2 linked regions of the Homo sapiens genome follow. The protein of the gene in region 1 purifies or fractionates together with the protein of each later gene. This does not show direct contact. Each region holds a gene or a part of one and is shown on either strand. Other genes may lie near its edges.

Region 1 (3,500 bases):
GCACCTGTAGTCTCAGCTACTCGGGAGGCTGAGGCAGGAGAATGGCGTGAACCCGGGAGGCAGAGCTTGCAGTGAGCCCAGATCGCATCACTGCACTCCAGCCTGGGCGACAGAGCAAGACTTGTCTCAAAAAAAAAAAAAAAAAAAAGTACCACAAGACGGTCAACCCTGTTGGTGGCCCAGGAAGTTCTTGTGAAAACATTAGCAACAGACTTCACAAAATTTAGTAGAGGGGCAATATCTCATGCTGGGGAGGTTGTGGGGAGACAGGTGCTCATATGCATTGCTGGTTGGCGTGTGAATTGCTATCAAAACCGGAACACACGGCTTCTAGCCGGTGTTTGAGCACACAGCCCACAGTTAAAAAGGTGTCACTACAAGGTTTTATTATAGCTGTGCTTGTAGTGACCAAGGCTTGGCAATGACAACAGAAAGAATGTTTTTAGTGGAATGGTGTATTTTTTAAAATGTGTGTTATTACCTGGAGAGATGTTGGGTGAAATGTTCAAGTTCCAAATGATGTGTGGGATTCAAATTTTACAAAAGAGAACATACATTTGTGTTTGTGTGCAAGTATTCGTAAGAATCTGTGTGAACGTATGGAAAAAATATGAGCATATCAAACAGGATTAATACATGGATTGAAAGCAACGGTGGTGTTAGTACCTCCTATATTTTTCCATAGTTGGACTTGTATGATGCATTGAGGCAAGTTATAAAACAATAGGACAGAAAAGTCCCAGTTTCTTAAAATTATAACTGTGAGGCTATAAGAAGAATGATGAGAAATAACATGGGATAGGTTATCTTAGGGAATTGTGGTGAACTTTTTTTAATTTTTTTTGAGTCAAGGTCTTGCTCTGTCACTCAGGCTGGAGCACAGTGGTGCGCGATGATCATGGCTCACTACAGCCTCAAACTCCCGGGCTCAAGCGATCCTCCCACCTCAACTTCCTGAGTAGCCGGGACTACAGGCAGATACCACTAGGCCCAGCTGATTTTTCTTTTTTTTCTAGAGACGGGCTTTCACCATGTCGCCCAGGCTGCTCTAGTACTCCTGGGCTCCATTGTTCCGCCCACCTCAACTTCCCAAAGTACTGGGATTACAGGTGTTGGGCCACTGACCCCAGCCTGGCAAACTCTTAAACTCTTGGTTTCTGACTATTATATTTAATTTTTCTTTTACTTAATGTATTTTTTTTTTGAATTAGAAAACTAAAAGATGACAGTAACTCCTGTTTAGTTCAGGATGTTGCTTAGATCCAGATGTGTCCCCAGCATAGAGCCTCAGTACTTCAAAGATACAGCCAACCTCAAACTTCTTTTCTGTGTTAACTATATATGATCTGTATGGGAATTCCAGCTGGTCTCTTTATTGACTCTGATGGTGGGAGCTGTTATATATAGCTTTATTAGCAGTAGCCCAAGCGTTAGAGAAAATTGAGAAATAACATGTTAATAGTTTGAGTAAGGTGCAAAAGTGAATCCATAAACAATGAAGTCATTCAGTGCTTAGTATAAAAGAAAAATTAGGCTGGGTACGGTGGCTCATGCCTCTAATCCCAGCACTATGAGAGTCTGAGGTGGGCAGATTGCTTGAGCCCAGGAGTTCAAGACCAGCCTGGGCAACGTAGTGAGACCCTGTCTCTAGAAAAACTTTTTAAAAATAGTTTATTAATTAAAAAAATAAAAATTAAAAGAAGATGATACAGATAGTGATAGGAGAGGCAGTATAGATTAGAGATGAAAGTATGAAGTTGGCTTTCAGATAGTAATAGGTATACTTCGTGGATCTATGGGCAAGCTGGATAACACCTCAAGTTTGTTTCTGCATTGGTAAAATGGGATGATAATAGTGCCTCTAGGATTGTTGTTTTATTGAAATGAGAAGGCATATAAAGCATATATGGTAAGCACTTAATTTTTGCTGTTAACAGACATAGATGAAAGTTTTTTGGTTCCTGTAGCAGTTGCTGTGGATAGCTGTGGATATAAGCCCATACTTGGCGCTTTTTTCCTCCTTCCTTTACTATTGTTTTTTGTTTAACTACATCCACATGTTGGCTCACTCATCTATTCCTGTTCTTTCTGGAAGGTTCTAATAGAAGACTGTATCCCGGTACTGAAGAGGTACGCCAAAGAAGGGAGAGAATTTGATTATGTGATTAATGATTTGACAGCTGTTCCAATCTCCACGTCTCCAGAAGAAGGTAGATTTTTTTAACCAAGATATTTATGATGGAAATGTTTCTCTTGGCACCATGTGAGGGTGAAAGGATCCTAGAGATTGTGTAGTTCTCTCACGTTTTTGAAAAAGGGAGTTAAATTGAGGTCCATGGTGGAAAGATGACTGGATTTGGCTTCAATTCCTGTTCTGCCACTCAATGAGTGAACTAATTCAGTCATTTGAAACAAAAATGAAGTAAAATGACTCATTACATTAATGAGACAGTAAATCATTTGACAATTTATTTAAATTATGTGATTTTCAACCTGTATTGGTACAAACTGGTCACTTATCTAAGCAACGACATAGATAATTCCCTTTCTCAAACCAGATGTTTGTTCCAAATCACAGCTAGTTCGTGTTTTTTTCTATAAACTCAAGTTCCTGCTGAGTTTGCAGGCTCTGAATTTCTCTCAGGATTTTGCTGCTTGCCCCCTTATTTAAAGCAGTTTTCTTTCACGTTTCAGCCACTGCCTTTGTGTCAAATCTATTGGTATTTTGAGAGCGAGCAGTGCTAGGTGGATGTGATTTTGGCATCCAAAATCAATTTCATTATCGTTCATGAACAAGCTCTTTGAATAGTGGGTCTTACACTCGTGGCTCTTTTTCTTTTTCCTCTTTTGGTATTGAGTATTCGAATATTTTACTTCAGATGTTGTGGATACATACAAACCCATATTTATGAAACTTGTTCTTTTAAACATTCAGATTCCACATGGGAGTTTCTCAGACTGATTCTTGACCTCTCAATGAAAGTGTTGAAACAGGATGGGAAATATTTTACACAGGTAGGCTACTTAACAGTTTTTTCCCTCAAAACGCTCTAAGACTTTCCTGTTTTGAAATCTGAATGCACATTTTTGAAATGTATATCTATTAAGGATAGAGCGGCATCATCGGATTATGTTCTTTCAAACAGTAAGCTTCTACGTTGACCTGTTGTCTGTTGGGAATTAATGAGTTATCAGCCCTGGTCTTTCGCTGTAGTATGAGCTGCTGCCACCAGATGGAGACACAGACTGATTTTCTTTTTTCCCCTCCCCTCATCAACATACACTTGATGACAAAGCTCTGGCTGTACTGTGAACTCCTGCCACCAGATGGAAGCAGATTGTGGTGTTTTTCTCATTCTCTAGGGGATTCTAAACTTAAACTTTAAAGATTACATTAATTGGGGTTAAAAATATACATATATATCTCCTATTGAAATCCTTAACAAAATTTTGAAAATGACAGCAAAGACAGCTAATTGATAATCCAGTCTCTTGGTACA
Region 2 (3,500 bases), on another chromosome or scaffold:
GGGCAACAGTGAGACTCCGTCTCAAAAAAATAATAATAATAATAATAATTTACTTATTATACAATGTATACAGCCACCTAATAAGTATTACTACTCCTTTGCCTAACAATTCCCTCACCCTCCTCCTACACCCCTCCCCTAAATAGTTAAACACTAGGCAGGTGTGATGTTAAGTGCCCTGAAAAGAAAAAAAGTTTTATTCCAGACTGTAACTAACACTAGCTGTTGACCTTAATCTCAGTCTGTTTGCTTAATAAAAATGTCCCCACCTTGAAAAGTTTTGAGAATTAAGAAAGGACTCTAAATAAAGCATGCTGTGTCCAAAACGGTAACCATTCACCACATGTGACTATTTGAATTTAAATTAAGATTAATTAAAAATTCATTTCCTCAGTTGCACTAGCCATATTTCAAGTGTGCAATAATTACATGTGGCCAGGCCAGGCACAGTAGCTCACATCTGTAATCCCAGCACTTTGGGAAGCCAAGGCAGGAGGACTGCTTGATCCCAGGAGTTCAAGACTAGCCTGGCCAACATGGCGAAACCCCGTCTCTACCAAAAATACAAAAATTAGCCAGGCGTGGTGGCACGCCTGTAGTCGCAGCTACTCGGGAGACTGAGCTAGGAGGATAGCTTGAGCCCGGGAGGTGGAGGCTGCAGTGAGCCGTGATCAAACCACTGCACTCCAGACTGTGTGATAGAGTTAGACCCTGTCTTAACAAAAACAACAAAAAACAAACCTACACATGGCCAATGGCTATCATATTAGAGCAGATAACAAATATTTCCATCATCACAGAAAATTCTACTGTGCAGTGCTATTCTAAAGCACCTAGAGCAGAGCCTGGCAAATGGTAGATTTCTCATTTTACCTGGCAAATAGTGACAAATCACAAACATAATCATCATGCTATTTTAACTTCTCTCACCACTTTTCTAGGAAAGAAAAATTCTGTCCTTTAACACTTACAACTAACAATTTAAATCATTCAGGCTAAAGTCCAAAACTACATTTATTGATGTACAATATTTTAACTATTCCCAACTTAGATTTTTCTTATAACTGACATTAACATTTGAAGAGCAAAAAAGAGAGAAGGAAGCAGCAGCAACAGCAACCAACCTACCAATACTTGATTGAAAGGCATTAGGATATGTCCATCTTTTCCAAGCAGGTTAAAATCTAAGGTGTGGATTTTGTTCTACTCTGGCAACCTCATTTTTCCTACCCTTAACCTAGATCCTAACAAAGTGGTATAAATATCTGGTAACCTCCTCAAACTTTTAGATAAACAAATAGCATCAACAGTAGGCAAAGGCCACAATTTTCTAATGACTTAATTTTCCAAATAAGTTAAAAGTTTGTAATTACAAACAAAACAAAACAAAACAAAACAAAAAAAAAACCAGACCAAAAAAAAAAAAACCAGCTTCTGGCAAACACAAGTCTTCCTTAAACTCTTACATAGGACCAGGTGCAGTGGCTCATGCCTGTAATCCCAGCACTTTGGGAGGCCGAGGCAGGCAGAACACTTGAGGTCACTAGTTCAAGACCAGCCTGGCCAACATGGTGAAACACCATCTCTACTAAAAATACAAAAAAAAAAATTAGCCGAGTGTGGTGGCAGGCGCCTGTAATCCCAGCTACTTGGGAGGCTGAGGCATGAACCCAGGAGGTGGAGGTTGCAGTGAGCCAAGATCACACCACTGCACTCCAGCCTGGGTGACAGAGCAAAACTGTCTCAAAAAACAAACAAAATAAAATAAACTCTTACATAGTATATGTCACATTAAATTCATCCCATCCTTTTTCTAGACAAATTATCAGCAAGAAACATTATGCAAGCATTTTGACTAACTTAGGACAATGCTTTAGTCAGAAAACAGAAGAGTAATATTGGAAAAAAGAGAAAAATATACAACAAAACTGAATTTTAGAGATCAACTAGACTAGATCAAGCCAGGCAAATCCACTGCAGAAACTCTAAAATTTTTGCAAACTTATGTGTAAAGCAGGTTTCCATTAAAAATTTAAGGAAAAAAATGTTTATTTTGAAATACAAACTAACTGTATTTCCTACTTAAGTTTATCATAACAAGTACAGTACAACTAACAAAGTAGCAGCTCAAAAGTTGAATGCTGCAGGAATGATTTAACAAGTTACCAAGCAGCCAGGAGCAGTGGCTCAGGCCTGTAATCCCAGCATTCTGGGAGGCCAAGGCGGGTGGATCACTTGAGGCTGGGAGTTTGAGACGAGCCTGAACAACATGGAGAAACCCCATCTCTACTAACAATACAAAATTAGCTAGGTGTGGTGGCACACGCCTGTAATCCCAGCTACTCAGGACGCTGAAGCAGAACTGCTTGAACCCGGGAGACAGAGGTTTCGGTGAGCCGAGATCATGCCATTGCCCTCCAGCCTGGGCAACAAAAGCGAAACTCCGTCTCAAAAAAAAAAAAAAACAACAAGTTACCAACCTAGCAACACTTGATTACATAGAGCACACACATCACATTATGTCCAACATTTCCTTTATCAGACCGGGCAAAAAAAAAAAAAATCTTAAAAGCACTAACTTACTATCAAATCTCAAGAAACAGAAGCAATTTCAAAAAATCAATACTATCCTTTTGGTCAGTAACACTTTCTTCATTCCTAATGTATGAGAACAATAAGGACATTTTAGCTCCTTTACTCTTCCTTCATTTAGTGACTTCCACATTTCTCTCACATATAACTTATCAATAGATCTTCAGCACTGTGATTTTGGCAATAAACTTACAGGTTTTTGCCCCACTAACACTACCACAAAAAAATTAAGATGTTTAATCAAAAATTGCTATTATATGGATGGTTAAACACACTGTGGTACATCCATATCATGGAATACTACTTGGCAATAAAAAGGAATAAACTATTAGCTGGATGTAGTAGCCCTGTAGTGATCCCCCCTACTCCGGAGGCTGAAGCGGGAGGACTGCTTGAGTCCAGTAGTTTGAGGTTACAGTGCCCTTTTGATAGAGCCTATAAATAGCCACTACACTCCAGCCTGGGCAACAGAGGAAGACTCTATCTCTAAACCCAAAAGAATGGCAAAATTATACAAATAGAGGACATGTACCGGTTGCTGGAGCCTGCAGCGAGAGGGGATGGGAGGGCGGTGGGAGAGATAATGGATGTGGTTCTAAAAGGGCAACAGAGGGGGGTACTTTGGACTGAAGGAACTTGTTCTGTAGCCTAATTGTAGTGGTGCAATCTATACATGGGATAACGCTGCATAGAAGTAAATACAGTCAGCTCTCATTATCCTTGGTGTCTGCATCCATAGGTAAAAACTATTTTTAAAAATACAATAAAAAATACAAATTTTTAAAATACAGTATAACTATATAACAGTAATATTGCATTAGGTATTATAAGTAATCTAGAGATATTTAAAGTATACATTCGCATAGGTTATATGCAAATACTACACCACTTTACATAAGGGACTCAAA

What was found. Proteins that work in one complex are often made in the same cells at the same time.
Region 2: the proteins of SMS (region 1) and NAA15 fractionate together in Homo sapiens (co-fractionation; one large-scale study listed by BioGRID). This does not show direct contact.

What each region holds. Positions count from the first base shown.
Region 1 is NC_000023.11:21,982,209-21,985,708, forward strand, and holds part of SMS (spermine synthase), read left to right. Parts: intron 1-2,095; coding exon 2,096-2,210; intron 2,211-2,935; coding exon 2,936-3,015; intron 3,016-3,500. UniProt on the Homo sapiens protein: Catalyzes the production of spermine from spermidine and decarboxylated S-adenosylmethionine (dcSAM).
Region 2 is NC_000004.12:139,304,505-139,308,004, reverse strand, and holds part of NAA15 (N-alpha-acetyltransferase 15, NatA auxiliary subunit), read right to left. Parts: intron 1-3,500. UniProt on the Homo sapiens protein: Auxillary subunit of N-terminal acetyltransferase complexes which display alpha (N-terminal) acetyltransferase (NAT) activity. The NAT activity may be important for vascular, hematopoietic and neuronal growth and development.